Linked DNA regions of Homo sapiens. The protein of the gene in region 1 purifies or fractionates together with the protein of each later gene. This does not show direct contact. Each region holds a gene or a part of one and is shown in the gene's direction. Other genes may lie near its edges.

Region 1 (7,535 bases):
TCTAGGCCTTTCAAAGTATGAAATTACAGGGGTGAGCCACAGCACCTGGCCTTAAAATTTTTTTTAATTATATGTTTAAGATGTAAGTGACATAGGCATTGTCAGTGGCCATCCATTTCAGTCTTTTCCGGTAGCCTAGTTTACTGACCCAATCTCACTTAGGTTGTTTACCTTTTCAATTCTTTTATGATTAATTTATTATGTTTTATGTATTTAATCAAATAATTAAATTTTTAATTTTAGGAATTTAATTACAATTTTTTTAATGCACTTAGGTGGTTTACCTTTTTGATTCTCATAATCAAAGTAATACCTCAGTAAACCTTATGGATGAGATTTAACACCTCCCCCCACCAAACTCCTTTTATCCAGAACACCATCCTGGGCCTCTGTTCCACAGCCTCCTCCTGCAAAAAGTGGCCTCCATAGGGCAGCCCTCCTTCCACACATCTTCCACCGCCCAAGGCCAGCATCAGCTGAGCCCATAATGGTGACAGTCTTCTCCCCTGCAGGAACCCCCACAGGAAAAGAATCCATTGTGCAAGTCCACATTGAAGTTTTGGATGAGAATGACAATGCCCCGGAGTTTGCCAAGCCCTACCAGCCCAAAGTGTGTGAGAACGCTGTCCATGGCCAGGTGAGTCTGGTTCAGGTGGGAGGGGAAGGCAGCACCACCCTGGGGCAGGCTGGGGGGCAGAACTGCTCAACAGAGTCAGCAGGAGTTCCCCTGTACAATAGCCTTGAGGAAAATAACATTATGCCCATTTTACAGATGGAGAAACTGAGGCTCAGAGGGAATATATGGGGAGTAGATTGGCGGGGCAGGGAAGTAGAAAGAATGGCTTTATGAAGAACTAAATAGGTGAGTGTTGCAGGTGGGAAACAGCCATGGTCAGGACTTAAACCCAAAGGCTCCATCGCTAAACCTCAGACCACCCCACCACCCCACCACCATCACTGACCATCTCCTGTCTTCCACACTCCAGCTGGTCCTGCAGATCTCCGCAATAGACAAGGACATAACACCACGAAACGTGAAGTTCAAATTCATCTTGAATACTGAGAACAACTTTACCCTCACGGATAATCACGGTAGGCATCAAAGTAATCAGTTCAGCTGGGCGTGATGACCCACACCTGTAGTCTCAGCTACTCAGGAGGCTGAGGCAGGAAGATCGCTTGAGCCCAGGAGTTTGAGGCTGCAGTGAGCTATGATCACATCACTGCACTCCAGCCCGGGCGACAGAGCGAGACCCCGTCTCCAAAAAAAGAACAAATGCAGTCAGTTGGCTCTAACAGGGTCGGGGTGAGGTTATTTGAGTCTTGAGGCACCAAGGTCAAAGACCAGGCCAACAAATTGAGGGCAGGCTCCCACTGGGATTTTCAAATCATTAGATATTTTGTACAATTTCTGCCACATACATTGTACAATTGGTCTATGCAATGGTCAGAGACACTCCATCCAAACTCCCAAGTCCACGTCGCCTGCAAGGAGCCAGCGAGGAGTACAGAACAGATGTGAGGATGCAGGCAGTCAGCTCAGTTCAAGAACTAGCCAAGGAGTCCCCTCCCATACTGGAGGCTCTATGGGTCAGCAAAACTGCACATTAAACATGGAACTTTGAGGTCATTCCCAAAGAGTCAAAACTGGAAATGTGAAATCCTAAATCCCAAGGATCCAGTGAGCTTTGTTTTAATTCAGCTACAACGATTACTCACGATTAGCAGGGTGGCCCGTGTGATGGCATTAGCAGCCAATCAGAGCTTCTGAGGAGTAGGTGCTGACTTAAGTGATGATGCTGAGTTGACTTCATTCCAGCCACAAGTAGGCAAGCTTCCATGGCCTCTGAAATTTCCTCAAAAAAATAGAGAAAATTCCCCTTGGGTTTAAATAGAGTGATCCTTCACCTAGCATGGGATGGAATTCCTGCCTGTCCCTAATGGGCAAAACTATGGTGGATGAGGATGGCTGTATTGCAGCAGCCCATTACTACATTTAAGGAAGACTGGGGAGTGGGGTCCCTGAAAGTTGGAGGCAGACTTGAGGGATCAACCACAGACCAGTCCTTAAGGAGACTCCTGTGGGATGGAGAAGGTGGCCCTGATGTGTTGACAGTCAATGACAGACCATTCAACACCCAGTTGTCATTAGAAGTAAATAATGTGGCAAAAATGTCACCCCCTCCCCAATGTCCACCTCAGTCCCATCTCAGAGTGGGGATCTGCAATACAGTAGAAAGATTCAGTGCCACCCCAAAGACACCCATATACAATAGGAGGCAAGTCTGTTGGTGTCAAATTCACTTATATCATGAACATCCTGCATGTCAAAATCTCTAGTTTCTCCCATAAGTGTCAATGACATATAGTTTATTTTGAAATATAATAGACTTAATGCTGAAATGTAATTATGAATAATGAAATATAATTGGCTTTCATTCAAAATCGAAAAGATGGATTCCTGGGTTTTTCAATCCAGTGTGTGGAGCCTGTGTAGCTAAGTAAATCCTGGAGTAGGGAGTTCCTGGATCCTTCTCTGATCGTTGACATTACAACCTCCTGGGACCCTGCAAAAGGCAGATTATCTGGCCTCTGCCCAGAACCACTGAATAAGAAGTGTGTGTGAGCATAGGGGTCTGAAAATCAGCATGTTTTAAAAGCTCCCTGGGGGATTCTTGGGTACAGGAAACCACTGATTGGATCTGGGAAGGTGGGCGGGGCCAATATTTGGACAAAAGCATTTCCCAGTTCCAAACTGCCTGGGAAACCCGCAATTCTATATGTAATCATTTTCTCTGTGCCCCAAGGGACATGTCCATTGTTTTTACTGTTTTCAACAATGTAACAATGGATTTTCAGAGAGAGCAGAAGCTGCCTTAGAAATTAGCCTAATGCTAAAAGACTTTTTAAAACTTTATTTTTCCCCGCTGCTTGTCAAAGCTTGAAACGGAGCATTAATTAATTGAGCTGAAAGAGAAAACCTCCTGTTACTGGAGTGGGGTTAGGGAAGAGGAAGGGGAGAGGCATCAGTTGCCCACAAATACAGAAAGCAAAGGATTTGACCTTCTTTCACCAAGGCATCCTTGGAGATTGGGTCAAAGCAGCTGCCCCAAAATATCCCCTCTGTGGCGGAACAGACCTGCACTCAGATGGCTGAAACAAGAGGCGCTGGGTGCAAAGGGCAGAAAAGCAGCCCAGGGAGCACGCAGGCTGGTGCAGTCAGGGAGGGCTTCCTGGAGGAGCCAGGTTTCCCCATCTGTGCAGATGGCAAAGCCTGACTCCGAGGCCTTGGTGTTTCCAGATAACACGGCCAACATCACAGTCAAGTATGGGCAGTTTGACCGGGAGCATACCAAGGTCCACTTCCTACCCGTGGTCATCTCAGACAATGGGATGCCAAGTCGCACGGGCACCAGCACGCTGACCGTGGCCGTGTGCAAGTGCAACGAGCAGGGCGAGTTCACCTTCTGCGAGGATATGGCCGCCCAGGTGGGCGTGAGCATCCAGGCAGTGGTAGCCATCTTACTCTGCATCCTCACCATCACAGGTCAGTGCTGGGCAGGGTGGGGAGAAGACACAGTGGGTGGAAGGGGATGGAAGGTGTTGGGAGGCGGGGAGGCTTCACAGGAAAAGTAGAGGCCAGAGGTTCAGGCCCAACCCTGCCTCCAATCTGCAATGCAGCCCTTAGCCAGTTCATGTGCAGGATGCAGGATGTGAGCTCCAACCACCTGGGTGCTCACGGTGGGGGATGAGCCAGGGAGGAGGAGGGGGTGGGACTCAGGACTCCTCCCCCACGCATCAGGCCAGTATCACTTTAAAATAACTTATACATAACAGTCACTCCTTCCACTTAGATATTTTCAGCATTTACTGAGTGCCAGGCATTGTTCTGGGCATGTATTTACATAAAACCTATTTTTGAAAAAGGAAAAAGGATCCAGTTCTAAAATGGAAAGTTTAAAAACTTCTAGTTTAGATTGTCTCCACGTGCTTTCTTTCTTTTTATAGAATTCCTCCGGCCTTGATACATATTTTTTTTCTTGTTTGGGCCTCAGAAATTTTAGGAGCATTGTAGGCCTTAGTTTGGATTTCCCAGGGAGCAGCCCTGGGATGAGGATTGGGGTGGAAGTGGTTTATTTGGGAGGTGGTTTATTTCCCTGGATACCTCCTAAGGCAGAGGGGGAGTGAAGCTGGGAAGGGAGGAGGCCAGCGAAGGTGGAATGTTCCCATCGTGAGGAACTGGAGCCTCCTCCCATAGGGTTGCCGGGAGGCAGCGTGGGGCCACCCCCCAGCATCATCCCACCGGGGGAGCACAGTGATGTACTGTATCCTGCATTTCACTCGCCATGAGACGCAGCAGGGGCTGATCCTCCAGAGGAAGCCCTCAGGTGATTAGAGATCACCCTGGCACTCACGGCAAGGCCTGGATACAGCCACGGGGCACCTGCAATACAGATTCCAGGCCTCTCCTGCCTGTAGCCCTCCTGAGAGTGGCCTCGGTATGCCCGACTTCTGGGACTTCTCCAGCAGAGATTTCTCCTTTATTAATAATTAATGATGATGATGGCATCCCCACCACAAATAGAATTGCATTTGACCTCACAACCATCCTCCCAAATATAAACAGAGCAGGGAGGTCATCATTTCCATTTTACAGACAAGGAAACTGAGGCTGGGGGGCAGGGCTGCCTTCCAGGGCATCCCAGCTTTACTTATGTATATAGTAGTTTGTTCAGTAACTCAAAGCTAGAAGGCCTGAGCCTAATTTTAGAAGCTCTCTGCACTTCAAGGTCTACCCCTCCTTAGGGATCCAAGACCCTCACATAGCCACACCCCTCAGAGATTCCCACAGGCTGAGCATCCGCACCTGCCCCTGGGTGTGGGGGAACGGCAGCGGTGGGAGTGTCGGGCGAGGTGGGGATGAGTATGCGGGGGAGCGGCAGGGACGGGGTGTGGGGTGTAGGGGGATGGCGGGGATGGGGGTATGGGGGAACGGCGGGGATGGGGTTGCAGGGGAAGGGGGGCCAAAAGGATGGGGTTGCAGGGGAAGGGGGGGCCAAAGGGATGGGCATGCTGGGAGGGCGTGGGGGTGGGGTTGCAGGGGGCAGTGGGGATGGGGGCATGGGGGGCCGCCCAGGCCCCCAGCCTTGTCTGACTCTGCTGCTCGGCTCCCTGGCTGCAGTGATCACCCTGCTCATCTTCCTGCGGCGGCGGCTCCGGAAGCAGGCCCGCGCGCACGGCAAGAGCGTGCCGGAGATCCACGAGCAGCTGGTCACCTACGACGAGGAGGGCGGCGGCGAGATGGACACCACCAGCTACGATGTGTCGGTGCTCAACTCGGTGCGCCGCGGCGGGGCCAAGCCCCCGCGGCCCGCGCTGGACGCCCGGCCTTCCCTCTATGCGCAGGTGCAGAAGCCACCGAGGCACGCGCCTGGGGCACACGGAGGGCCCGGGGAGATGGCAGCCATGATCGAGGTGAAGAAGGACGAGGCGGACCACGACGGCGACGGCCCCCCCTACGACACGCTGCACATCTACGGCTACGAGGGCTCCGAGTCCATAGCCGAGTCCCTCAGCTCCCTGGGCACCGACTCATCCGACTCTGACGTGGATTACGACTTCCTTAACGACTGGGGACCCAGGTTTAAGATGCTGGCTGAGCTGTACGGCTCGGACCCCCGGGAGGAGCTGCTGTATTAGGCGGCCGAGGTCACTCTGGGCCTGGGGACCCAAACCCCCTGCAGCCCAGGCCAGTCAGACGCCAGGCACCACAGCCTCCAAAAATGGCAGTGACTCCCCAGCCCAGCACCCCTTCCTCGTGGGTCCCAGAGACCTCATCAGCCTTGGGATAGCAAACTCCAGGTTCCTGAAATATCCAGGAATATATGTCAGTGATGACTATTCTCAAATGCTGGCAAATCCAGGCTGGTGTTCTGTCTGGGCTCAGACATCCACATAACCCTGTCACCCACAGACCGCCGTCTAACTCAAAGACTTCCTCTGGCTCCCCAAGGCTGCAAAGCAAAACAGACTGTGTTTAACTGCTGCAGGGTCTTTTTCTAGGGTCCCTGAACGCCCTGGTAAGGCTGGTGAGGTCCTGGTGCCTATCTGCCTGGAGGCAAAGGCCTGGACAGCTTGACTTGTGGGGCAGGATTCTCTGCAGCCCATTCCCAAGGGAGACTGACCATCATGCCCTCTCTCGGGAGCCCTAGCCCTGCTCCAACTCCATACTCCACTCCAAGTGCCCCACCACTCCCCAACCCCTCTCCAGGCCTGTCAAGAGGGAGGAAGGGGCCCCATGGCAGCTCCTGACCTTGGGTCCTGAAGTGACCTCACTGGCCTGCCATGCCAGTAACTGTGCTGTACTGAGCACTGAACCACATTCAGGGAAATGGCTTATTAAACTTTGAAGCAACTGTGAATTCATTCTGGAGGGGCAGTGGAGATCAGGAGTGACAGATCACAGGGTGAGGGCCACCTCCACACCCACCCCCTCTGGAGAAGGCCTGGAAGAGCTGAGACCTTGCTTTGAGACTCCTCAGCACCCCTCCAGTTTTGCCTGAGAAGGGGCAGATGTTCCCGGAGCAGAAGACGTCTCCCCTTCTCTGCCTCACCTGGTCGCCAATCCATGCTCTCTTTCTTTTCTCTGTCTACTCCTTATCCCTTGGTTTAGAGGAACCCAAGATGTGGCCTTTAGCAAAACTGGACAATGTCCAAACCCACTCATGACTGCATGACGGAGCCGAGCCATGTGTCTTTACACCTCGCTGTTGTCACATCTCAGGGAACTGACCCTCAGGCACACCTTGCAGAAGGCAAGGCCCTGCCCTGCCCAACCTCTGTGGTCACCCATGCATCTTCCACTGGAACGTTTCACTGCAAACACACCTTGGAGAAGTGGCATCAGTCAACAGAGAGGGGCAGGGAAGGAGACACCAAGCTCACCCTTCGTCATGGACCGAGGTTCCCACTCTGGGCAAAGCCCCTCACACTGCAAGGGATTGTAGATAACACTGACTTGTTTGTTTTAACCAATAACTAGCTTCTTATAATGATTTTTTTACTAATGATACTTACAAGTTTCTAGCTCTCACAGACATATAGAATAAGGGTTTTTGCATAATAAGCAGGTTGTTATTTAGGTTAACAATATTAATTCAGGTTTTTTAGTTGGAAAAACAATTCCTGTAACCTTCTATTTTCTATAATTGTAGTAATTGCTCTACAGATAATGTCTATATATTGGCCAAACTGGTGCATGACAAGTACTGTATTTTTTTATACCTAAATAAAGAAAAATCTTTAGCCTGGGCAACATAGGGAGACCCTATCTCTACCAAAAAAAAATTAATTAGCCAGGCATGGTGGCAGGCACCTGTGGTCCCAGCTACTTGGGAGGCTGAGATAGGAGAATCACTTCAGCCTGGGAGATCAAGGCTGCAGTGAGCTCTGAACGCACCACTACACTCCAGCCTGGGTGACAGAGTGAGATCCTGTCTCAAAAAAAGAGAAAGAAAACCTTTGAGATTCTTCCA
Region 2 (7,535 bases), on another chromosome or scaffold:
TACGGCCCTGGTGTGGCCCCCAGGGTCTGGCCCTCAGAGGTGGAGGGACCAGTTTTTGGGAAATCCATGGTCACAGTGTGTCTGATGACCCCAAGCTGAGCTTGGGGAAGCTGAGGTGGATGACAGTCAGCCCTGCTCTCCCACCCCAAGTTTGCTCCCCCAGCTTGGCTTTTTGGCATCTCTGCCTGGGGCCACGCCCTGGCAGGTGCACTGCTGTGTGGAGAAGTAAGCTCCAGGTCTTGGAGACTGGTCAGAGGCTGTGGCACCAAGGGAAAGGGCATTTTGTGGTGGCCAAGGGCTTGCTGCCTGGTGAGAGATGCCAGCCTGGCTTGTCCTGGACTCTACCTGGGAGGGCCATAATGGGGATGGAGAAGATTCATTCATTCATCCATCGGACAGCAGCCACCTCCTGCCCTCTGGGAGCCTGGCCTGCAGGTGTGGGATCCAGGTGTGCAATCTCACCTTAACTCATTCTCTGTGTGTGCTAGCCAGGCCTTGGACAGGGGAGGGGCCTGCCCCTGCAGTCTGTTCTTCAGGACACAGACCGTGGTGCATCTGTGAAGTCCGGTGGTTTGGGTAGATAAGTAATATGGGACCAGGGCCCAGCCACCTGTGCCCCAGCATCCCTCTGTGTGTTGGTCCAATCTTGCTTTTCTGCTCCCTGTGTTCCTTGCATTTTGCCACAAAAGTGAGACTGATGCTACCCAGCACGTCCCACGACCCCAGCCCCCTCTGTCCTTCTCACCTCCTTGTGAAGAAGCTGAGCCGAAGGTGCGTGATGGGGCCCAGAGCCCCTATGCTGGGCTCAGCCCTGTGTTCCCGGGACCCTCTTGTGAGCAGGGGTAGGTGGTCTACCTCCCTGGTCACTCTGGCCCCTCCCACAAGCCCAAGGGAGCTCATGGGAAACCCCAGGCCTGGGCAGCAGCCTGTTTCTGGGCCAGTCCTGGGGGCCCCAGACCTGGTGCACCAGAGATTGAAGAGCCAAGGGAGGGATGAGTGCTGGGAGGCCGGGCGGGGTGCAAGAGGAGCAAGGATGGGGCCCCAGCTGGGGAGGGGGTGATGAGAGACGACTGACAGGATGCAGCATGTGGGATTGGGCTGGAGGTGGGGTGTTCAGGGTAGAGCCCATGTCTAGGGTACAGAGGGGAGCAGCCCAGAGTTGGGTCTGAGGCAGAGGCTGTGTGGGGCTGCAGGGCCAGGGTCCCTGAGAGTGGGCCAGCCTGGGCAGGTGCACGTCAGACATGGACACTGGGGCCAGACAGGGATCCAGGGACTGCAGCCAACTCCTGTTGAGAGTCAGCCCACCATTCCACAGCCCCACCCTAAAGATGTTGCAGAGAGCTGAGCCACCAGCTGGCTATGGGCCTCTCACTACTCTACACCTCAGTTTCTCCATCTGCCAGCCAGCTCTGAGACTCCCAGAGTGGATGCTGGGCAGATGATTGGCAGAGTTGGTGGCCCCTGTCCCTGTGTGTTGAGACTCTGTGAGGCCCTGCATGGATAAGGGTCTCCGATACACGGTGGAGGACGGGAGGATGTGTGCTCACGAGTGTGCCTCTGGGAACAGTGGGCGCCGTGCCCTTGGGGTGCTGTTAGAGCACACGGGTTGATGTGCTCGGCCTGTGCCGGGCTGGGTACTTGCACACGTGTATGTACATGCATGTGTCCCTGTCTGAGGGGTCATGTATATGCATGTGTGTGTGCCTGGGCATGTGTAGCAGGGGCCGGGCTTTCCTGTGATCACTGGCTGACTCATGCACCTGCCACCCGGGTGAAGTCATCCCTCGTTTTTAGCTCCCTGAGGTCATTTGCCAGCAGGGACTCTTGGGGCCTCTGGATCCTACTGCGGGGCTGCTAGGCCGGGGCTGATGGGTGGTGCCGCAGGGTTGCCAGGTCTTGCTGCGGGGGCGTGGCTCTCCTGGACCACCCCAGCTCTGCCTGTCAGACCCTCACCACAGCCTTGGTGGGAGGGATAAGCTGGGCCACAGAGTGGCATCGGGGTCCTGAGATGTCCTCCCCTTTTCCTCTCCCGCTTACCCCCACTGCCTAGCTAGGGAAGAGGGGGTTTTTCTCTGAGTTTTTAATAGATGTAAATATATACATATATGAGGGGCTACATCCCACTGGCAGAGTCCTGGGTAACGTTTCCTCAGTCTTGCTTTATACCCTCCTCACTCTGTCGCCAGAACTGCAGCCCCTCAGTGCCTGGGCCCCTGCTTGAACTCAGATGAGCCCCGCCCAGGGCCCAGCAGAGAGAGCTCAGGGCCTGACACACATTTGCCAGATACAGATGGGGCAGCCCAGCCCCAGCAGTGATGGGCCACACAAGCCTTCTCCTGCTTCAGAGCAGTCCCAGCTCCCCAGTGCCTTTGGAGAAGAGCCCAGCCTGCCCTGCCTGGCAGCGTGCCAGTTGTCCCCACTCTAGGCCTCAGTCTATTTCTTTTTCCCAGGGAACAGGTCCCCTTTTCCTAGCCAGGTCCACAGCAGGCATTCCACCTACATCTCAAGACTGAGGGCGAGATGAGGCCCAAAGCCTTCCTTGCCAGATTGCCTTCTCTGGGGGTGCTTGAAATCCCACTTGGACTGTGAAGTTCTAGGTAAATCCTCTTCCCCCTGCCAGGCCTCAGTTTCCCCATCTATAAAGTTATCTGTCATCCTCCAAGACCCTGCCTGTGGGAGAGGGGGAGGTGCCTTCTGTGGCCACTTCTTTCCTCTGTCAGCCTGAGGGATACACCTGTCCTAACATGTTGGTGCAGGCCCCTTCCTGGACACCTGCACTGCATGCATTTGGGGGTCAAGTATTCCCCCAGGATAGGACCCTGACCTGGGGAGGCTTCCCAGCCCACGAGCCTTGGCAGGCAGGTCCTGAGGGCAGCGCTGAGCATCTAACCTGGCTCACCTCCCAGGCCCAAGAATGGGCAGAGTCTGCCTCTGGAGCCTGGCAGAGCTTAGTGTCTGTGCAGGCCCCAGGGGGCCCAGGCAAGGGACCCATTGTGCAGGGACCAGGGGCCTGGGCCACAAAGCAGGACCTGTCCTCCTGCTGACCCTGCCCTGGCTGCCTGGGAATGTGCTCCGCCTGACCCACCCACCAGGGCTTGGGTTTCAGCTCCTGCCCATCCTGGCTAGATGCCGATCCCCGGATGTTGGTGCCATGTGGCCCTGGGGCCAGGCACCTGTGCAGTCAGAGGCCCGGGGCAGGCTGTGAGTCTTAGGTCCTCAAGCCACTCAGCGCGGCAGGGGTTGGGCCTGGCTCTGATGTGGGCCAGCCTATCCTCTTTGAGCCTCAGTTTCCCCACTGGCAAGTCCAGTCAGTAGGCATGTGGATAGAAAAGTCTCAGTCCAGAGTTGTCTTGCCTAGAATTCCAGTGTCGTCACCCCATGCAGAATGGTGGCAAGGGCACCCATAGGCTCAAATCTACTGTGTCTGGTCTCTGATATGATGCCCAGAGTCTCAGTCACTGGGGGCGCCAGCCACTGGCCCGAGGTAGGGCAAACCTGTGCCTACACAACACTCAAGAATGTCTGGGCTGGAAGGAATAAGGACATACTGGTGCTGCAGGTGCATGGGGTGTTCTGGGAACTGCGTATTTCTGTCCCTTGAGGGCGTCTGGCTGGCGTTGGTGGCGGGAACCTTAGTGTGGCCACAGGAGTCAGTAGGCAGTGCTGAAACAGCCCCCACAAGGCTTCTATACTCAAGGTGTCTGGGGCAGGTGAGGGAGGAGGCCCCAGGACACCATGATGTCCCAGCTAGGGGTGGTGGTTGACATCAGGAAGGCATGCTGCAGGTCTCACTGGCACCTCCTGGGGCCTGGAGGAGCCTGTGGCAGCCAGGCCATGCAGCTTGGGGAGGGCCCTGAAGACTTCACCCCCCAGGGTCTATGTCCTTATCTGCCAACTCAGCCTGAGGAGACCTGAGATGGGGGTCCAGCCCCAGGGTCCCCCCAGGATGGGGTGCCGGGGCAGGGTTAGCACCTCGATGTTCAGAGGGCAAGAACTTATTGCTGTCCTTGTCAGCTTGGGCCGAAACAGGCCTTGGGGTGGGTGGGTTCAGGACCAGGAGGAAGGCACCCTGGTGTGCTGGCCAGCATGAGCTGAGGCAGAGCTGCTGTGTGTGGAGACCTGCACTCCAGGGGTGACTGAGCAGCAGGCCTGCCCACCAATGTCCCTCCTTGCCCCAGGAGCAGAGCCCAGGCAGCCAGGCCTCACTGGCCACGATGCCGGAGGCACCTGATGTGCTGGAGGAGACCGTGACGGTGGAGGAGGACCCCGGCACACCCACTTCCCATGTGTCTATTGTCACATCCGAAGATGGCACAACCCGGCGCACCGAGACCAAGGTATGGCCAGGCCCAGGCAGTGGGTGGGTGAGCAGGGCCAGGCTGCTGCAGCTGTCCCACCTGCAGAGTGGACATGGAAGCTTGCCACGTGGGGCCTCTCATTGCTCGAGTGGGAAATTAAGGCCAGCCAGACCCCAGCAAAGCAGTTTCTAGGCCTCTCGTGCTACCCCACCTACCTGCCTATCCATCCACCAGGTCACCAAGACTGTCAAGACGGTGACCACTCGGACAGTACGCCAGGTGCCCGTGGGCCCAGATGGACTCCCCCTGCTGGATGGCGGCCCCCCACTAGGCCCTTTTGCAGATGGTGCCCTGGACCGGCATTTCCTGCTGCGTGGTGGTGGCCCAGTGGCCACACTCTCTCGAGCCTACCTCAGCAGTGGGGGTGGCTTTCCCGAAGGCCCCGAGCCCCGGGACAGCCCCAGCTATGGCAGCCTGTCCCGAGGGCTGGGCATGCGGCCCCCACGTGCTGGCCCCCTTGGCCCAGGCCCTGGTGATGGCTGCTTCACACTGCCTGGCCACCGGGAAGCCTTCCCGGTGGGTCCTGAGCCTGGGCCACCAGGTGGCCGCTCCCTGCCCGAGCGCTTCCAGGCAGAGCCGTATGGCTTGGAGGATGACACGCGCAGCCTGGCCGCTGATGACGAGGGTGGCCCTGAGCTGGAGCCTGACTATGGCACGGCCACAAGGAGGAGGCCTGAGTGTGGGCGGGGCCTTCATACCAGGTGAGCTGCACCCCGTCCCCTGTGGCTACCTCCTCTGGGAAGTCTGCCCTCCACCCCCCAACTACAGAGTGCCCCACTTGTCAAGTGGCGCAGTTGAGTTAGTCATGCATGTTAGTTTGAATTGGCCTTGGCTCTCGTCAGGGACAGAAGAAAGGTGGACCCTGGGGTGGTAGGAGTTCGGCTGGGCACTGTCCTGCAGGCCCAGGGCCCAGGAAAGCTGGGAAGAGTGCCGGCCACTGGCCTTGCTCCAGCCACACTCTGGGTAACCAGAACCCAGAGCCCTGGCCCTTGTCACAGCCCCTGGTTCTGTCCCCATTGCCCTCAGTTTCTGCATCTCTGGAGTGGGGATGTGACCACAGCCCGGGTCAGGATTTTGTTGTGTGACCCTGGCCAAGTCACCTGACCGTCACTCCTAGCCTCAGGGCAGGCGGTTTGATGACAGCAACCCACAGGGCTACTGAGAGCTAAGGAGATCTTGTGCCCCAAGGGGCTGGTGGCCTGAATACTCCTCAGGTGGTCCTACTGGGATGGCTTCATGCGGAGAGGGCCATTTACTCCCCCTACATCCTGGCACAGCCAGAGATGGGCCTCATGGAAGATGGGGTGGTTTTGTGGAAGGGAGGTGAGACGGTCTCTCCAGCAGCCATAGCAGATGTCTCACAGAAACTTGTTTTGCTCGGGATTGGGAAACTGCCCGGTGACAGCAGTGAGTGAGTTTGCTGTCCTGGGAGGGTTGCCTGGGTCCTGGTAGCCGCTGGCTGGGGTTTGGCATTTGGCTCTGAATTGGTTCTCACTGGGCTGGTGCATGACTCTCTGTGTCCCCACCATGCTCCGGGCCAAGATACAGGTGCTCTCAGCCCAGCGCTGCTGGGTGAGTTTGCAGTCCTGAAGAAGGTGTGATGGGGCAGCTCAGAGGCAGGGCTGGCGGCTGCTGTGACGATGTCCACGCGCCCCACTTGCCTGTGCAGGGCCTACGAGGACACAGCAGATGATGGCGGCGAGCTGGCGGACGAGCGGCCTGCGTTCCCAATGGTGACGGCGCCCCTGGCCCAGCCTGAACGGGGCAGCATGGGCAGCCTGGACCGGCTGGTGCGGCGCTCGCCCTCAGTGGATAGCGCCCGCAAGGAGCCGCGCTGGCGGGACCCTGAGCTGCCTGAGGTGCTGGCCATGCTGCGGCACCCCGTGGACCCCGTGAAGGCCAATGCGGCCGCCTACCTGCAGCATCTGTGCTTTGAGAACGAGGGTGTCAAGCGGCGTGTACGGCAGTTGCGGGGGCTGCCGCTGCTTGTGGCACTGCTGGACCACCCGCGGGCTGAGGTGCGGCGCCGGGCCTGTGGGGCACTGCGCAACCTCTCCTATGGCCGCGACACTGACAACAAGGCCGCCATCCGGGACTGCGGTGGTGTGCCTGCCCTGGTGCGCCTGCTGAGGGCTGCCCGGGACAACGAGGTCCGTGAGCTTGTCACTGGTGAGTGGGACCTGGCCATGCTCACATCCCCTGGGAAGAGAAGAGTGTGAGGCTCAACCCGGGAGGAACGAGGCCACTCGGCCTGCGACCGCCTGGGAAAGCACCCGGTAGGCAGGAGTGCAGCTGCTGAGACGCTTGCCCCAGGAGCCAGGCATCAGGCCCAGACACTGTGACAGGTTCCCCAGTCTCTACCATAGCAGGGAGGCTGACGCTGCGCCCCTCGGGCATGTCCCCTCACCTCCTGCCTTCACACCTCCTGCCCCCACAGAAACTCTCCTGGGACCCACCTCCTTGGTTCCCACCCCAACCGTGCAGTGGTGGGGCTTGTGCCTTGTGAGAGCTGAGGGACAGGTAGGGTCACCGTGTCTCTGTGAGGCCCTGTGGCCTCAGGAGTGTTAGTGCCACCTGCCACATGGCAGGGAATGGGTGGGACGGGACAGCACTGCCACACCCTCCTCTGCACCTCCTCCCCTTTGGGGCTCCTTCCTAGCTGGAAACCAGTACTGGGTGTCCCCCGGAACCACTCACGGCTTTTGTTACTTCCTACTGTTCTGCATGAGCTGGGACATGAGGAGAGTGGGACAGGTCCTGAGCGTGGCCACCTGGGGAGGTAGGCAGGCGGTGCATATGGTCAGCACAGATTGGCCAATCGCACCCCACAGGCACCCTGTGGAACCTGTCATCCTATGAGCCCCTGAAGATGGTCATCATTGACCATGGCCTGCAGACGCTGACCCACGAGGTGATCGTGCCCCACTCAGGATGGGAGCGTGAGCCCAACGAGGACTCCAAGCCACGGGACGCCGAGTGGACAACTGTCTTCAAGAACACGTCGGGCTGCCTGAGGTGTGGACCAGACCTGGTGCTAAAGCCCACATGCACACCAGGCCCCGTCCTCGTGGTCCCAGATAGTGTGGAAGATGGCGGCGAGCTTAGGAGCGCCAGAGCTTAGGAGCTTCAGAGCTGTGGCACAAGTCCTGTGGATGAGAAGTGGGGCCTGATGGAGCT
Region 3 (7,535 bases), on another chromosome or scaffold:
GGTTTTTCTAGTCTGACTTTGCTGTGATGTAATCTGTCTGAGGTTTTGTCTGTCTTCCTCTGTGTGTGTGTGCGTGTGTGCGCGCGCACTCGCGCATGTGTGTGTGTGGTAGACATTGCCTGATAGATTGCATCTTACGAGAGATCTCTGAGTGGGAACCAGAACAGTACTCATGCCCTGATAGTCCTTTTCATTGAGTAATTTTTATTTATTTATTTAAATAGGAGTGCAGTGGTGCAATCTTGGCTCACTGCAACGTTCGCCTCCCGGGTTCAAGCAATTCTCCTGCCTCAGCCTCCTGAGTAGCTGGGACTACAGGCGTGTGCCACCACACCCAGCCAATTTTTGTAGTTTTAGTAGAAATGGGGTTTCACCATGTTGGCCAGGATGGTCTCGATCTCTTGACCTCGTGATCCACCTGCCTCGGCCTCCCAAAGTACTGGGATTACGCGTGAGCTACTGCACCCGGCTGAGTGATTTTTTTTTTTTTTTTTTTAAGATAGAGAAAGTCCCTCATACTGAGGAGCCTTGCAGTTGAGAGAGAACAGAATTCCAGTTGGAGGATCAAGGAATTTGAGGGAGGCAGCATGCTTGCAGTGTTCCTAGGATTTTTACAGGAACTACAATAGAAAGTTAGGGATGAAATTATATTGAAAGGAGAAAGCTGGACTGCTCAGGTTTGGAGGTCATGGGGAATTCCAGGATTCAGTATGTGGTTGCTCTCTTATTTTTAACTTCTGCTTAGCAGTAAAACCACACCCTTCCTTCTTCCTGAAAGTAATGTTTAACTTCCTCTCCCTGCAGCATTACACTCTATGTAATGGGAGTGGGGTGGAGGAAGAGTCTCCCAAGGTGGTTGGATCTCACTATTCTACTGGAAGAGGAGCAGGCAAATATATTTTTATGTGGTATAATGTCATTAGATTATTTCCTGCTGCTTAAGACAGAGCAACTTCTGGATGACATTTTGGAATGTATTCTGTGGCTCTAATAATTGTTGGTAAAGATATTGAGCCTTCTGTTTTCTTGAGGGGAGTTGGGGTGCTTGTTTTTGTACTTGGAAAGGGAGACTCGTATCTCTTGCTTTTTTCTTTAATTAAATTTCTGTTTTTTACATTAGGACATGATAGCCATCTTGCTTCTTTCTTTAAAAAGCTGCCTGGAATGGGAGTTTCCAGTGGTAGTACTGCATGAAGATTCATGAGACTATAAAGCTCTTTGGAAACCCCCCAACTTAGCCCTTCCAACTTTCCTTACATTTTTATGGCTTTCCAAAAAGGTTGCATGTAAGGGAAATTATCTAGGTCTGTGCTGTTTATTCAGCAAATAGTTTTTGAGCACCTGTTATGTGCCAGGCACTGTTCAAGGCACTAGACTAAACTAAACTTATCCCAAAAAACCCTCTGCCCTCGTGGAGTTTACGTTCTTATGTTCCAGAGACCCTGTCTGCCAGAGTTCCAGGCCTGATTTTCAATTTTGAGGAAAGTGCTAAGACTAAAGAGTGAATGGTTCTTTTATGAGTACTGACACAAGGACTCCAGGCCACACATATCTTCTTGAAAGCCCTTTTCCTGTTTGAAAAAAAGATCGTTTGTATTTGATAGAGCAAAAGAAGGCCACAAAATGAATTGTCTTCTTGTGGGCTGTGTTTCAGAACGGCCGGTTTGTGGGCGATGCTGACCTTGAAAGACAGAAATTTTCAGATTTGAAACTCAACGGACCCCAGGTAATTCTTTGGCTCAAGACCTGGGTTGCTTCATTCATATTTTCTTATTTCCCCAGCCTATAAGAGCATATTTGTGTCTTGTAAGGTGCCTGGCACATTGTACATACTCGTCAATTAGTTTCTTTTATTTACGAAAACAAAGAAGTGGAGCTCCAAAGTATATATGCAGTTTTGTTTTGGAATGAATTTTAATGACCATTGATCTTTATGACTATTCCTCCTCCCCACTGCCACCCCATTTGATCCCTAAGTACTGCGTTTCTTTTCTAGAGACAGTAGGCTTCTACTTTGCAGCAAAAAACCCTACCTAAAATCTGGCTGGTCTTGAGCCTTTTAGACGGTATCTGAAGAGTAACATAAAGCCAGTCAAAAGATGGCTCTTACTGGGATTTTCAGGTTTGTCTTAAAAGTTCTTTATTTTTGGCCAGGCATGGTGGCTCATGCCTGTAATCCCAGCACTTTGGGAGGCTGAGGTGGGCAGATCACCTCAGGTCGGGAGTTGGAGACCAGCCTGACCAACATGGAGAAACCCCGTCTCTACTGAAAATACAAAATTAGTCAGGCGTGGTGGCACATGCCTGTAATCCCAGCTACTCGGGAGGCTGAGGCAGGAGAATTGCTTGAAACCAGGTGGCGGAGATTGTGGTGAGCTGAGATCATGCCATTGTACTCCAGCCTGGGCAACAAGAGCAAAACTCTGTCTCAAAAAAAAAAAAAAAGTTCTTTATTTTAGACTGGGCACGGTGTCTCATGCCTGTAATCCAACACTTTGGGAGGCCAAGGCAGAGCAAAACTCCGTCTCAAAAAAAAAAAAAAAACAAAGTTCTTTATTTTGGCCAGGCGTGGTTTGCTCATTCCTGTAATTCCAGCACTTTGGGAGGCTGAGGCTGGAGGATTGCTTGAGCCCAGGAGTTCAAGACCAGCCTGGGCAACATAGACCCTGTCTCTACAAAAAAAATAAAATTAGCCAGGCATGGTGGCGTGAGCCTGTAGTTCTAGCTACTCAGGAGGCTGAAATGGCAAGATTGCTTGAGCCTGGGAGGTTGGGGCTCCAGTGAGCTATGATCATGCCACTGCACTCTAGCTTGGGTGATAGAGTGAGACCCTATCTCAAGTAAATAAATACAAGTTATTTATTTATTGGGTGAGCTGCTCTTTTGAGGGATCACTCAGATATAGATGAAACTGCATTTAACACAGTTCATGTTCACTTAGATGACCACAGCTGGGAAGTTAAATCTACTGTCTGTCACTTGGATGTTGATGTGGCTATAGTTAGTTCATGTTTGTTAAATGACTACAACTGGGAAATTATGTCTACTGTCCTTTTGTACAAGTTCAAAAGATGACAGCCACCCATCTAAAAATCCTGAGGCCTATAGAAGATGCATGAGGAGTCCCTGTCTCCAGGTTTACCACTTATGCTTCTTATTAGGATGGCTTGTTATACATAGCACTTAATAGTAGTTTCTTCTCTTTTCTCTTTTGCATATAGGATCACAGTCACCTTCTATATAGCACCATCCCCAGGATGCAGGAGCCGGGGCAGATTGTGGAGACCTACACGGAGGAGGATCCTGAGGGAGCCATGTCTGTAGTCTCTGTGGAGACCTCAGATGATGGGACCACTCGGCGCACAGAGACCACGGTAAACTAAGACGTGTGTAAGATCTGGAAGTGATAAGAGGTCTTTTCTTCTCTATTAGGGGAGGGGTTAAGCACTTAATTAAGATGGAGGACTGATATGCCATTATTGATCTGATTGCATGAAGTGATCTCTGGCCAGATAGAAAGGATGAAGAGATGGGAAAATCTTATGGGATAGGGAAGACAGAAGGTATATCAGGGTCTATAGTAGCTTCCCTTATAAGCATAGTTACTGTCAGGGCAATTTTCCTGCTTGGGGACTTCCTATAGGATGGAAAGAAAGATAGATGGTAGGCTTTAAGGCATTCCTAGGTAAAGTGACCTAGGGATATAAAGATTTGTTTCTTTTGGAGTGGTATAGAATTTAATTGTTCATGGCTGGGCGCGGTGGGTCACGCTTGTAATCCCAGCCCTGTGGGAGGCTGAGGTGGGCGGATCACGAGGTCAGGAGTTTGAGACCAGTCTGGGCAACATAGTGAAACCCCGTCTCTACTAAAAATACAAAAAATTAGCCAGGTGTGGTGGTGTGTGCCTGTAATACCAGCTACTCGGGAGGCTGAGGCAGGAGAATTGCGTGAACCTGGGAGGCAGAGGTTGCAGGTGAGCCGAGATCACGCCATTGCACTCCAGCCAGGGCAACAGTGCAAGACTCCATCTCAAAAAAAAAAAAAGAATTTAATTGCTCACTTCCTTAATTAGTTTTTCTTTTTCTTGTTTCCTACTTGCAGGTCAAGAAAGTAGTGAAGACTGTGACAACACGGACAGTACAGCCAGTCGCTATGGGACCAGACGGGTTGCCTGTGGATGCTTCATCAGTTTCTAACAACTATATCCAGACTTTGGGTCGTGATTTCCGCAAGAATGGCAATGGGGGACCTGGTCCCTATGTGGGGCAAGCTGGCACTGCTACCCTTCCTAGGAACTTCCACTACCCTCCTGATGGTTATAGTCGCCACTATGAAGATGGTTATCCAGGTGGCAGTGATAACTATGGCAGTCTGTCCCGGGTGACCCGCATTGAGGAGCGGTATAGGCCCAGCATGGAAGGCTACCGGGCACCTAGTAGACAGGATGTGTATGGGCCCCAACCCCAGGTTCGGGTAGGTGGGAGCAGCGTGGATCTGCATCGCTTTCATCCAGAGCCTTATGGGCTAGAGGATGACCAGCGTAGTATGGGCTATGATGACCTGGATTATGGTATGATGTCTGATTATGGCACTGCCCGTCGGACTGGGACACCCTCTGACCCTCGTCGGCGCCTCAGGTAGGCAAGAATAGGGGAAGAGAAAAGGGTCTTTCCAAGACCAGGGACAAGGGGTAGCTTTTCCTTCAACTTCTAGGGGCTTTTTGGGATCAGAGATACTCGTGGCCTCCTCCCCTCTGCTTTTTTTTGGGGTGAAAAGCTACCCTGTTTTTCCCTTTTCTGACTTGGCTTAGTATTGACTTGCTATATATATATAATATAAATATATATATAATTTTTTAAATGAAAATAATATAATTTTATTTTTTATTTTTTTGAGACAGAGTCTTGCTCTTTCACCCATGCTGGAGTACAGGGGTGCCATCTTGGCTCACTGCCACCTCCGCCTCCTGGGTTCAAGTGATTCTCATGCCTCAGCCTCCCTAGTAGTTGGGACTACAGGCAAGCACCATCACGCCTGGCTAATTTTTATATTTTTAGTAGAGATGGGGTTTCACCATGTTGGCCAGGCTGGTCTCAAACTCCCGACCTCTGGTGATCCACCCGCCTTGGCCTCCAAAAGTGCTGGGATTACAGGCGTGAGCCACCGCGCCTGGTCCACAAGTTGTTTTCTATAATTGAATATATGGGCCAGGCGCGGTGGCTCACGCCTGTAATCCCAGCGCTTTTGGAGACTGAGGTGGGTGGATCACCTGAGGTCCGGAGTTCAAGACCAGCCTGACCAACATGGAGAAACCCCGCCTCTACTAAAAATACAAAATTAGCTGGGCGTAGTGGTGCATGCCTGTAATCTCAGCTACTCGGGAGGCTGAGGCAGGAGAATCATATGAACCCGGGAGGCAGAGGTTGTGGTGAGCCAAGATCATGCCATTGCACTCCAGCCTGGGCAACAAGAGCGAAACTCCACCTCAAAAAAAAAAAAAAAAAAAAACAACTTGTGATTGTTATTAGTCTGTGTCCTGAAGAATGAACTTTGCTTCTGCTTCTATGCTGAAGTTTTTGCTGTTTCTGGCTAAGATGTGACCCCCTTTTGGTGTGTTAGGCAGAGGATTCTGATGTCTGGGGCCATGGAATTCTTGCTCACTTCTTCCTGGGAATTTCTTTAGTTTCTGATTTGGTATTAAGAACAGAGTCCATTGGGCACGGTGTCTCACGCTTGTAATCCCAGCACTTTGGGAGGCCGAGTTGGGCGGATCACGAGGTCAGGAGATCGAGATCATCCTGGCTAACACGGTGAAACCCTGTCTCTACTAAAAATACAAAAATTAGCCGGGTGTTGTGGCTCGTGCCTGTAGTCTCAGCTACTCAGGAGGCTGAGGCAGGAGAATCACTTGAACCCGGGTGGCAGAGGCTGTAGTGAGCCGAGATCCCGCCACTGCACTCCAGCCTGGGTGACATAGTGAGACTGTCTCAAAAAAAAAAAAAAAAAAGCCAAAAAAACCCCAAAACAAAACATAGTTGAGGGTTTTAGGAATTCAGAACCAAAAGAGACAGTTGAGGACGTGTATAAGAACTTTCTTGTGTTTTTAATCCCAAAGTTAAAAACAAACTTTGACCTCACAAGGGCCTTGACATTCTATGCTTAGGGTCTTATTATTTGATTGTAAAGTGAAATTGTGGTGGCATCCTTGGGTGGGGGTCGGGGGATACATTAGCAACACTCTGAAAGGTCACTAAGCAGCTGCCTACTCTGACTTTACTACTTGTTCCTGGAGATTCTTTGGTGATGTGAAAAAAGGAGTGATTGATGTTTGGACTGGTACATGGTTTGCCTTGTTGCATTGAGAGAATGCTTTAGAATGGGGTCGACAGACCCCTGAAAATGACCACGTAGAACTATTTTAGGCTTTGCAGGCCATGTATCATCTTTGTCGTATGTTGTTCTTTTTTTCAAACAATCTTTTAAAAATAGCATTATGGGGATGTACAAAAACAGGTTTGGCCCATGGGCTGCCAATGCTGCTTCAGAATAAATTAGAAACAGTGTTTTCCAGGTAAAGAGAAATGATAAGAAACAAGGGATGATTTATGGTTGTCTTGATGGTAAGGATATCCTAGCAGCTGTTGCTGAATTTCTCTATATGGGGTCATGACCTTTTAAAGCAAATGCCTTGGTGCTCATTTTCCTCATATATTAGGTAGCTTTGGTTAAGAGTGAACAGGGCTGGGCCCAGGGGTAGAGGCCCCATTATCTAAGACTGAGTCACTCACCTTTCAGGTGTCTTGGATAGCTAATCCAACTCCCATGTGACTCATTTTTATTCCTACAGGAGCACCAGACCTCGGCTGGTGCAACCTAGAGCAGTGGTAGATAACAGCCTTCATTGAAGCAGTCTGTCCAGGGTGTTGGCTCTACTGCAAGTCTGCTTTTTCTGACTTCCTCATTAGTAAAGAGTGATTGGACCCAGATGGGTGTGGGTGGCCAGGTCATTCTCTGCCATCCCTAGTTGTGCTAGTTCACATAGAGTTTTGGGCCTGGTTCTTGGGTTTGTTCCAGGGTAGCACTGGACTTGGAAACCTGCTTGACTAGCAAGCATATTTGCTGCTTCCTGTTCCAGGCTAGAAGAGTAATACAAGGTCAAACTTAAACAGTGAGGCAGTGATTAGTGGAAAAAGCACTGAACCCTGAGACCTTGGTTCTAGTTGTGCCTTTGCCACTAGCTAAGTAGCCTCAAGCAAGTCATTTGGTCTTCCCAGGCACAGCTTTGTTTCTTGTAAAACAAAGGAAAGAATGTCCAATCCACTGCCTTTGTATAGAAAAGGATATAGGATAGAGTTATCTGGAAATTTTGGTTATGGTAATTGTTCTTATAATTTTGTATATTAATAATAGAGGTTAAACATGTTCAATACAGAGCCTGAAAAACCCAGAAAAGCATTACCATCTATTGATAAAGAACCACTGTTAACATTTTGGTGCATATCCTTTGAGTTTTTTTAATTATACATGTAACTATA

The links.
Region 2: the proteins of CDH5 (region 1) and ARVCF purify together in Homo sapiens (affinity purification with mass spectrometry; 2 studies listed by BioGRID and IntAct, with this or other methods). This does not show direct contact.
Region 3: the proteins of CDH5 (region 1) and CTNND1 purify together in Homo sapiens (affinity purification with western blotting; 4 studies listed by BioGRID and IntAct, with this or other methods). This does not show direct contact.

Annotation. Positions count from the first base shown.
Region 1 is NC_000016.10:66,397,470-66,405,004, forward strand, and holds the end of CDH5 (cadherin-5 preproprotein), read left to right. Parts: intron 1-512; coding exon 513-637; intron 638-986; coding exon 987-1,092; intron 1,093-3,301; coding exon 3,302-3,547; intron 3,548-5,182; coding exon 5,183-5,700; 3' UTR 5,701-7,315; downstream 7,316-7,535. UniProt on the Homo sapiens protein: Cadherins are calcium-dependent cell adhesion proteins. They preferentially interact with themselves in a homophilic manner in connecting cells; cadherins may thus contribute to the sorting of heterogeneous cell types.
Region 2 is NC_000022.11:19,978,735-19,986,269, reverse strand, and holds part of ARVCF (splicing regulator ARVCF), read left to right. Parts: exon of another isoform or gene 1-2,597; intron 2,598-4,178; coding exon 4,179-4,337; intron 4,338-4,532; coding exon 4,533-5,059; intron 5,060-6,027; coding exon 6,028-6,527; intron 6,528-6,577; exon of another isoform or gene 6,578-6,878; intron 6,879-7,189; coding exon 7,190-7,373; intron 7,374-7,535. UniProt on the Homo sapiens protein: Contributes to the regulation of alternative splicing of pre-mRNAs.
Region 3 is NC_000011.10:57,792,356-57,799,890, forward strand, and holds part of CTNND1 (catenin delta-1), read left to right. Parts: intron 1-1,654; coding exon 1,655-1,726; intron 1,727-3,221; coding exon 3,222-3,374; intron 3,375-4,101; coding exon 4,102-4,637; intron 4,638-7,535. UniProt on the Homo sapiens protein: Key regulator of cell-cell adhesion that associates with and regulates the cell adhesion properties of both C-, E- and N-cadherins, being critical for their surface stability.